Homo sapiens: one gene and its partners. The protein of the gene in region 3 purifies or fractionates together with the protein of the main gene of each other region. This does not show direct contact. Each region holds a gene or a part of one and is shown on either strand. Other genes may lie near its edges. The genes, in order: YBX1, MCRIP1 and DDX6.

Region 1 (3,652 bases), on a different chromosome or scaffold from region 3:
TCTATTCTGAATTGGAATCAACTCAATTGGTCATCCTCCAGGGCAAGTTATGAATTGGCTTTTGATGGTCCTTTGTTTGGACTATCCTAACCTCAATTATTTTGTCAAATTAACTGGTTAAAATGTTCTTTATGCTTCTGAACTGGTTTTAATGATTCTGGGACTTTTTTAATAAGATGCTGTAAAATCTGACTCCAATTAAATACAGGGAAGATTTGCTTTAATTAAGGAAAATGTATGTGATAAAAGAAATCACTTTGGAAGCTAGCAGTTGGTTCTATATGTAGTTCGTGTAGTGGAACAAATAGACTTGGCTGGAGGCACCTGTCTCTTATGAGGGAGGGAGACAGACTGACACATAACGTGCTGTTTTCTGTATAAAGGAGAGGGTGCAGTGTTCGGGATGACTATTGTGACGACTTTTAATTGGGGTTTTTGGATGCGCTGGATTATATATGCTAGGATTGTAAGGAATTTTTATAATTACAATATTGTATGTAAATTTTCTGCCTTTAAAGACATAATTTCATTGTAAATGTGTTTATTCCAGCCTGAATTACCACCTGATGAATTGTTACAACCTTGTTAGAATTAATTCATGAAAGGGCTTCTCCCTGATGGTTATATTGTGAAGAAGGTGCTAAGTAACATGAGCATAGAGCTTTTAAAAATAGCAGAAGTTTTGGCTTTATTTTGTTAGACTGTGTAATCTAGAAATTCTAAGAAATTCATTGAGTTATTCTTTTGTGAACTGTGTCTACAAAACATAATCGGAGAATGTGACTAGAGGGGTTTATTAGCTCCCCCCAGATTACTGTTGAATTTTGTTAGTGGTTGAGTATTGATCCATATTCACCAAAGATTACCATGAATTGGCAACAGTTTATAGTGACCAGAATAGGAATATTTTTCTGTTTCCAGAGTACTTAAAATGTTTAAATTAATAATTCTTAATGTTTTGAGGTGAAAGAATTTGGAGCAGAGGTCACAAATTTGTGACCTTCTGGCTAAAACTACTCCCAGATGCTTTGATTAGACAGTACAGTATTTTTTAAAGGAATTGGGATTAATTACTAACATTTATAATTCAGGAGATAACACCAAGTAATCCAGATTATTATATTTTTAAGATCTGAACTTTAGCTGGCTTTGGGGGCCTGTATTTCCACATAAGTAAAAACCACCTGGCCATATTGTCACCACATTTAGGTGGGGTATACTTTTTTTACGACAGCCTTCACGCCTGGCCTCTGTGTATGCATTTGAGTTTATTACCCATGGTCTAGGAAGATGTAATAAACCAAGCCAGGGAAAGGTTTGGCTATCTCTCTTTAGTCACGCCTATCAGGTTTAGTCTCCCTTTGGGGTGGGGGCTCCCTTGTGGGGATTCCATATGTACATAACTGATAGGTGACTTCCAACACATGTTGGTGAAAATAGATACAGCTAACAAGTATTTATACTAGGGTCTATAGTAAGTGCTTAAAATGAGCCAATTTACTTAATCTTTAAAAACCTTTGAGGCGTAGGTACTGTCATTCTGAGGCACAAAGGAGTTGTTACTTGTCCCCATAAGCATAGGTGATAAGTGGCAGGATTGGAACTGTTTTTTGACTCTGGAGTTAGTGTTCACCAACTGCTCTTATGCTGTCTCTGAAATAGACCCTAGCCATTTTCAATTTGGTTGTTGTCCACATAGTTACAGATAATTTCTTAGGGTGATTATTTTTAGCCGTTGAAAGACTCTTAAATGATCCAAGTATGTCACTGGGGCTCTTGTCTGCTGACTTGCTAGGTCCTGGATTTGAAAAGTTTTCTGCCTTTCACTATCTACTTTGTGAAGTTTGGGATTGTTAAAAGTTCTAGTTTAGCATGTAGGTCAGCTATACAAATAAAAGGACTTGCTTAATTCCTGATACTGGGAGGTGAAGAATTAAAGGAGAGAATGTTGCACCTTATCTCCCTTAATCTTTTTTTTTTGTATGGCCTGCAAGGTAAGACTGAATATTGCCTTTTTAAAGGGTGATTTTTCTTGAGATGGAGTTTCACTCTTGTCACCCAGGCTGGAGTGCAATGGCACGATCTTGGCTCACTGCAACTCCGCCTCCCAGGTTCAAGCGATTCTCCTGCCTCAGCCTCCCGAGTAGCTGGGATTACAGGCGCCCGCCACCACACAGGCTAATTTTGTATTTTTAGTGGAAACAGGGTTTCTCCATGTTGGCCAGGCTGGTCTCAAGCTCCTGACCTCAGGTGATCCACCCGCCTAGGCCTCCCAAAGTGCTGGGATTACAGGTGTGAGCCACTGCGCCCGGCCTCTAAAGGGTGATTTTTTTTTCTTTTTTAAAGGTGGCGGTGTAAAGTACTTACTGTGTGGTTGTTGGTTGTTTGAAGTGGAGTCTCTCTGTGTTGCCCATATGGGTCTTGCACTCCTGGGCTCAAGTGATCTTCCAGCTTCAGCCTCCCAAATGTGTGGTTCTTAATAGAAGTGTAAACCTTTGGAAGGATGTCATTACCAAAAATCTCTTGGGCTGTTAAAGTCACACTGATCTTAACTTGATCACAGTAGATCCATTGCTAAGCCACATAAGTCATGGGTAGACCGTAACATAACTGACAAAATGTTTTGGCACTAGGGAAGGTTTAAAGACTTTTCTGCAGGTGCTGCTAAGGGAGAGATGTCGAAGGTTCCAAACTGGAACCCTAAAGACAAACATCAATGACATGTATGCAGGAGACATTAGGAGAGATTTGTATGCTGGTTATATTAACCATTGATCTTAAGCTGGCAAGAAGTCATCCGTGTTCACCAAGTCACTGATACGTGACTTGGAGAATACTAGTAGGTCCCACTCCCTGTGTCCTCCCAAAGTACAATCCTTTACTCTTGAAATCTAGGATAGAGAACTAGTATCCAGTTTGACTCGTGAACAATGTGAGTTTGAACCACACAAGTCCACTTACACACAGATTTTTTTTGATAAATATATTGGAAAAATGTTTGGAGATTTGCAACAACCTGAAAACTTCAGATGAACCACATAGCCAAGAAGTATCCCCCAAAATAAGGAAAAGTTGAGTATGTTGTAGATACTAGTCTGTTTTATTATTTACTACCATAAAATGTACACAAATGCATTAGAAAGTTAATACAGCCATTTGCAGTTGAGAAATGTAAACAAACATAAAGATTCAGGCAGCATTAAATCATAACTGCACGACATTCACTGTAGTAATATTGTACTATTATAATATGTAGCCACTGCCTATTGCTACTGCAGTGAGCCCCTTAAAATGCCATGTGACGCTAATCATCTTCACATGAACAGTTTATCTCTCCAGTAAATTGCATGTCAGTAAAAAGAACTTGTAGTACACAGGTATTGTGGTTTAGTGCAATACTGTAAGTCTTCAATAGCACCATGGGACCCATGCAAAGTGGCGCTAGTGATGCTGAGAAAAGTCATGGCATTGTAAGAAAAAGTTCAGTTGCTCGATATGTGCTATAGATGAGGTCTACAGCTGGAATTACCTTTCAGACAGATGTACACTTACCGTATCGATAAGTGCAGTACTGTACATGTATTTTCTCTTACAACTTTCTTAGCATTTTCTTTTCTGTAGCTTTATTGCAAGAATACAGTATATAATACAT
Region 2 (3,652 bases), on a different chromosome or scaffold from region 3:
GTTTCACCATATTGGCCAGGCTGGTCTTGAACTCCTGACCTTGTGATCCACCCGCCTCGGCCTCCCAAAGTGCTGGGATTACAGGCGTGAGCCACCACGCCTGGCCTTTTTTTTTTTTTTTTTTTTGAGATGGAGTCTTGCTCTGTCGCCCAGGCTGGAGTGCGTTGGCGCGATCTTGGCTCACTGCACCTCCACCTCCCGGGTTCAAGCGATTCTCCTGTTTCAGCCTCCCGAGTAGCTGGGATTACGGGTGCCTGCCACCACGCCCAACTAATTTTGTATTTTTAGTAGAGACAGGGTTTCACCATGTTCGCCAGGCTGCTCTCAAACTCCTGACCTCAGCTGATCCACCCGCCTCTGCCTCCCAAAGTGTTGGGATTACAAGCGTGAGCCACCGTGCCTGGGCTTTTTTTTTTTTTTTGACACAGGGTCTTGCTCTGTTGCCTGGGCTGGAGTGCAGTGCCACGATCTTGGCTCCCTGCAGCCTTGACCTCCTGGGCTCAAGCAGTCCTCCCACCCCAGCCTCTGAGTAGCTGGGACTACAAGTGCATGCTGCCACACCAGGTGTGTTCATATGGGTGTGTGCCGCATGTGTGTGGGCAGGTGTGTACAGACAGGTGTGTGCGGGCGGTTGTATGCATGTGTGTGGCAGATGTATTCAGCTAAGGTGTGTGCAGGTAGGTATGTGTGGGCAGGTGTGTGTGTGTGTGTGTGTGTGCACACAAGGCAAAGGGAGCCCCGGAAGGGTAGTTGCTTGGGAGGATGTGGGGCAATCAGTGGGATCTGGGGCAGGAGTGACAACCGAACCCAGCAGGGGGATCCCAGGCCAAAGGTGTGGCTGCATAAAGGCCAAGTGGCCACTGGAGGCAGAGGATGCATGGGGAGAAGAGCCACGGGAGAGGGCAGGCTGGGAGGCAGGTACCCCTAAAGCAGCAGTCGGTCAGTGGTGAGAGCCAGCAGGGGGCGAGGCAGGGGGCTGGCCAGTCTACCTGTTACCTGAGCTCTGCCTTTCTCTGTAACGGGAGCTTCCCAGCAGGCAGCATGTCCCTGTGGGACCCTCAACCCAAACAGGCCTTTCCCTCCGTGCTCTGGTGTTCGTGGGCTGGAGTCCCTGGCAGGAGGACTGGGCAGAGAGACCCCAGAGTCCAAGAAAGGAGAGGTGACTTTGTGAGCAAACTGGGTGCTGCCGTGGGTGGGGAGCCCCTGGCCCTTTTTGGACCTCACTCCTGGCCTGGGATGGGGCACAGAGTTCCAGGGCTGGGAGCTGGTTTTCTGCTCTTTGCTGGTTTTGCCCTTGAGCCGTGGGATTCTTATCACGTGGTGTTTGAGGGCTGGACCATTGACATGAGGCGGAATGAGCCAGAGAGGACTCGAAGCCTCAGTGCTCCTGGCCCTCTGTGAGGGCTGCAGCCGTGTGCCCTGGAGTATCTGCAGCCTTGGGCCTCTGGGTGGGCAGGGGAGTTGCTTGTGCTCAAAGCCCCCTCCTGGGAATCCTGGGACTCCCCTCCCCCAGAACCTGGAGTTGCCCCCTCTGGAGCAGGGCAGGCTGGAGACCAGCCCTGTCAGCTTCCCCACCTTGGGGTTGTGTGTCCTCAGCTGGAGTGGGGACACTGTCCAGCCTGCCAGTGTGAGCGTCTGAGCCTCAAAATAGACTCCATTTTTCCAGAGCCGTGGATTCCCCTGGGCTGGGAGGCCATAAACGGGCGGCAGCCCAGGGTCTTGGTCACCAGGTCAGGCCCAGCAGCTTCCTCCAGGGCCACCCCCTCTGCCCACCAGGGGAGCTGGAGTTTGGTTCCATCTCCAGGGTACTGATGTGGCTCATGCTCTAGGGAACCAGGAAGCTGGACCTGGGTAGGTGCCGGGGAGCTGGGATCACCTTTAGGAAGCTCATCCCCGTTTTACAGAAAGGAAATCAAGGCTCAGCAGAAGCCGTGTGCCCAGCCCTGCACCAGGGAGAGCAGGGTCAGTTAGCTGAGGGGCTGCAGGCCCTCTGCTGCAGTGAGAGGCAGCTGGACATCAGAGATGCTGACGGCCCCACCAGCCCACGTGGGGAGGGGCTCTGGCCACAGTGCTCCCGGTGCTGGGGCTGAGGCCTCCACGTCTGAGCCTGAGACGTGGAGGATCAAGGCCGCTGAGCGGGCTTGATCGCTTCAAGTTGTGTGTGTGTCTGGCTCGTCTGGCCAGCTCTCTGCTACCTCGTAGGGTTGCCTGGAGCCCACTGGCTGCCTGTGGCTGGACCCCAGCCTGTGGGGGACACCCTGGTAGGCAGAGGGACCATGCACTTTGTTCACATCTGAAGGGAGGAGGCAGGTGTGCCCTGCGCCTCCCCCTCCTTCTGTGCTGGAGAGGGTGGCCCTGCGTCCCATGCCTGCGCTGGCTTCTGTTTCAGAGGCTGAGGGGATCTGGCGGTGGAGCGCTAGGATCAGACGCCCCCGCGATGACCAGGTGGGTCTCAGGCAGGTGGGCTGGTCTCCACCGGGGCGGGTTGTGGGCTCCCACCCTGCTGTGTGCCCTGTCTCATGCGCCAGGCTCCCCCAGCTCCCCCGTCTCCAGAGTCGTGTACAACGGCAAGAGGACCAGCAGCCCCCGCTCCCCACCCAGCAGCAGCGAGATCTTCACCCCAGCCCACGAGGAGAACGTCCGCTTCATTTACGAAGGTGGGTGCGCCTGCCACACACAGCTCCTGCCCTGTCCTTGACGGAGTCAGCTCTGCCCCCAGCCCAGGACCCACGCTCCGAGGAACCTCCTGCGGCCCCTGCCCCTGCCCCTCCAGGGCACAGATAGCCCCATCACTGTGTCCACAGCCTTCAGGGCCCAGGCGGGTAGGGGTGGCCGAGGGGACCTTGTGTAGAGAGGAGACCTGGTTCTGATCATGGGGGGAGCCCGGGAGGAGGGGCTGGGGGTGGGCCATGCCACAGATAGAGGCCGCACTGGGAGCCAGTCATCCATGCTAGCAGCACTGGAGGAGTTTGCTGGGGAAAGGGAGGGGCCTTTGAAGACAGACAGGCACGCATCCAGCCATGAACGGGCGTGTTGCAGAAGTGGCCGGGAGGTGGTTGTCTGGGATTAGGGGAGTGTGCCGTGTGCTGGGGCCGGGGAGGTGCGTGGATGAGGTGGGAAAGATAGAGGCCTAGCTGAGGAGGATGCGCTGCCTCCGAGGCGCAGGGAAGCCTGGGGTAGGGTCATAGGGGTCCCTCTGACCACAGTCCTGGTCATCTTGCGGGGAAGGGACAGGCCTGCCAGAGGAGCGGGGACGGGGTCTGCAGGTGAGTGAGGCTGGGGTGGGCAGAGGGCTGTGGGGGAGCATGGAGGACACTTCTGAGGGAGAAGAGGATCTGGGAGGGCAGGAGCTGAGGGCAGGCACTCTCGTGACGTGGATGCCACCCCCTGGGGCAGGGGGCCCTGAGCACACCACTCTCTGCCTCTGCAGCCTGGCAGGGTGTGGAGCGAGACCTGCGAGGCCAGGTGCCGGGTGGCGAGCGGGGCCTGGTGGAGGAGTATGTGGAGAAGGTCCCTAACCCCAGCCTGAAGAGTGAGTGGGGGCTGACCTGGGGGCAGGGCTGGGCCGGCAGGCCGGGCCTCATGGGCAGGAGGGGCCTGTGCCCACCACCTACCGCGTTGTCCCCTGGCAGCCTTCAAGCCCATCGACCTG
Region 3 (3,103 bases):
ACCCAGTGTACTAGGTCAATCAGGAGGCATCTGGAAAGGGGGGGAAAAAAGCAAAAAACAAAATTAAAAAAAATTGATTTCCATATTTTATTTTTCAAAACCCTAAAATATTACAAAATAAGTCCCGCATATACTTTAATGTTTTAACTCTTTTGGACAAAGGAATCAATTACTTGAAGTTGCTTTTTTGACTCTGCCTACTTCTGAGCAAACTATTTGCGACTCACCCACAATTCCTTGGAGATCAAAATCCTACAGATGCCTCCTGATGGGACATAGCCCTAACTCCTTAACAACTGTAGCAAGAACTGCACGGTACAAACCCAAAAAAGAACAAGCTCATCTATTTGGAACCCAAGCCTCATATTTTCTGTCCAGTCAATGTTGGTTACTAAATAGAAAACCTAATTAAGGAAGTAACTTTTTTCCAGGGAGGGGTGGGAGAGGGAATTTAAAAGGTGTCAACTTTTGACCAAAAAAATTGTGCCCTTGTACCGATGCAGCTCTCTTTCTCCCCCACCTCTTGCGAGATAAGAGGGATCATTCATGTAGAAGAAAAGAGTATAAATGCAATTCTGTATCTCGCTAGAGAACGTGTGGGTGACTAAACAAAAAGTGCAGTCTCCTTCACCAACTTTAGACTGCGTGGTGCCACATGCCTGTGGGTCCCTCTTAAAGCACAGACTTAAAATGGAAAGTATTACTGAAGTATAGCCTCTAATGAGGAGTGGCACTTAAACTATCTGGGACACCACTACTGGACACGGTCTTGTAGAGGCAGCTGTCCAGTTTTGGTGCTTGACTCTTGAATAGGAATTGTTAAATGGAAAGATGCTCTGAGGACTAGGTCAAAGCCTGGTCTTTTTTTTTTTTTTTTTTTTTTTCTTTCTTTTTTGGGCCCTCATAATAAGCATTGTTACTATTGGAAGTTGTTTTCACATTCTTTCCAATATTAAATATGTATTTTTTTAAGTAATGATAATATTTTCCAGTGGCTCATTTGGATGAGAACTACCCTCTATTTTTAATATTAAAACTACATCCAACTCATCATTTAGCCTTTGGTTGTACAGTTGTGTAATGGGCTATGGACTGTTACACACCTTACCACCTCTAGGCCTATGTTTTTTCTTTCCCCATATATTCTGATGGGGATAAATACTGTTTTGCCTCTCCCATAGGAATGGAATACATTTATTCTAAAATGATCTTTCACAGAAGTAAGAGAGAGGGAAACCTAAATATACCTCTAAATTGTTTGAAGTTGGTCCCAGCAGCATAAAATGGGTTGGCCCCAAAGGGTTGGAGGGTGGGCTTGGTTATCAGTATTTGTTTTCAGAATGAGATGGGAGCATCTTTCCTTTGCCACGTGCTTTGTGCTTGATAACATCATGCTTGGTTCAAACGACAACTCAGCACAAAGCCTTGAGTATAAATTGTTGGAATCAAAACATCTCATTCTGATGACGTGGTTTAATTTTTTAATTTTTTTTTTTAATAGGGGTGGGAGGGAGGGTACTTTGCCCCAGAAGGGAGGGTGTCTGCACTAAGGATTTAGAAACACTTTGGAAGCTCATAACCTCATCAGAAACTGCCTTTAGCCACACTCCTGACCTTCTAGATGAGTAACAAAAAAATGAAATAAGTTCTTGGAAATTAAGCCATTTATTTTAATTTGCTATTTTTTTCAATGTTCTAGGTATCTTTAAATTTGTTATTGTGGAATCATTTTCCTGCCAGATACCTTTATCAAAATTATTGGCCTCATGAGAGCTGAAGTAAGTCAGCTTTTTGGTGAACTTTAGTGGACTTCTGTGAGATTGTAGTTGTACTTTGTATCTCTAAATCTAAAGATAGTTTTTTAAAACTCCCAAAGAAAATCTGCTCTCCTTTCTGATCTAAAAACTCATCTTTGGGGTAAAGAGTTAAGTGTCCAAAGGTTGTCACAGTTCATGAGGTCAGAGGGAGCTAGCCTGGCACCTGGACTCTGCCCATCCACAGCTGACAGATTCCAACAGAAGTGTATTTAAATTCTCCAGTAGACAATGCTGGGTAAGGGAGGGGGTAGGGCTGGGTTATTAAGATACAGGCTGCTGTATTTTACATTGGTTGTGTGGGAAGGGGAGCCTGGAGAAAACAAAGTCACTATTCCCTTTTTTGAAACAGGAAAAAAAATTATTTTTTGTTCAGTAAAAATGGTAGAGAATTCCAATGTCCCTAGCCACAAGGGACCAGTTCCACTGAGAAGTGAACAGTGGGAACTCAAAATTTCAGAAACATTGGGGGAAGGGAAAATTGGCTTTCTCTTAATTGGCAGATGTTCCAGTGGGGGGGGGGGGGGCTCTGTTTTTGTTGGGATGTGTTATGTTGTATGTACGCATATATGGACCGGAGTCTGCTGAGTTTATAAGGTTCCAAAAATATGGTAAAATCTTGGTTTTTGTTAATTTATCTCAATAAAAGCCCACTGGAACTCCAAATGTGTGTGTGGTATGTCCTTAGTAGCAGCTGTGTGCATAGGAATCTGAGCATTTTGCTCAGGTAATTCATACTGTGAAACAGACATTTCTCAACCCATCATTCCTGTGAAGCCCAGTTGAATTCAGAGCCCCTTCATCTGTTGTAGATACTGTTCCACCATGCTGTCAGATTTCACAGCCTAAATGGAGAACCAAGATAATCGGTTGGGAAGAGGGGAGATGTGGTCCATAATATGTCCAAATACATCAGTAATTACCACCTCCTACAATTGTTCTCAAATGTAAAGCTGAACATACCCCCAAAACCAAGGCATACTACATCTTAACAGTATGAATGGAATTCATATGCTGAGAACTACAAACCACTGATGAAATAAAAGATTGGGAAATAAAAGTTGGGAAAAGCAGACACTTAAAGTTGAGCACATCACTCTCACTACCTCTCTACCCAAAGAAATGCTTAAGTATAACTAAGAAAATAGAGTCAGTCCCCTGTATCTGGGTTTTACGTCTGCACATTTAGTCAACTGCAGACCAAAAGTGTTAGGCCTACAATGGTTGGGTCTGTACTGAGTATGTACAGATTTTTCTTGTTCTCTGAACTACAGTATAACAACTATCTA

What was found.
Region 1: the proteins of DDX6 (region 3) and YBX1 purify together in Homo sapiens (co-immunoprecipitation; 4 studies listed by BioGRID and IntAct, with this or other methods). This does not show direct contact.
Region 2: the proteins of DDX6 (region 3) and MCRIP1 purify together in Homo sapiens (affinity purification with mass spectrometry; 3 studies listed by BioGRID and IntAct, with this or other methods). This does not show direct contact.

What each region holds. Positions count from the first base shown.
Region 1 is NC_000001.11:42,685,268-42,688,919, forward strand, and holds part of YBX1 (Y-box-binding protein 1), read left to right. Parts: intron 1-3,652. UniProt on the Homo sapiens protein: DNA- and RNA-binding protein involved in various processes, such as translational repression, RNA stabilization, mRNA splicing, DNA repair and transcription regulation.
Region 2 is NC_000017.11:81,823,292-81,826,943, reverse strand, and holds part of MCRIP1 (mapk-regulated corepressor-interacting protein 1), read left to right. Parts: intron 1-428; exon of another isoform or gene 429-549; coding exon of another isoform or gene 550-564; intron 565-2,389; coding exon of another isoform or gene 2,390-2,437; coding exon 2,438-2,445; intron 2,446-2,538; coding exon 2,539-2,657; intron 2,658-3,430; coding exon 3,431-3,532; intron 3,533-3,632; coding exon 3,633-3,652. UniProt on the Homo sapiens protein: The phosphorylation status of MCRIP1 functions as a molecular switch to regulate epithelial-mesenchymal transition. Unphosphorylated MCRIP1 binds to and inhibits the transcriptional corepressor CTBP(s).
Region 3 is NC_000011.10:118,747,140-118,750,242, reverse strand, and holds the end of DDX6 (probable ATP-dependent RNA helicase DDX6), read left to right. Parts: 3' UTR 1-2,480; downstream 2,481-3,103.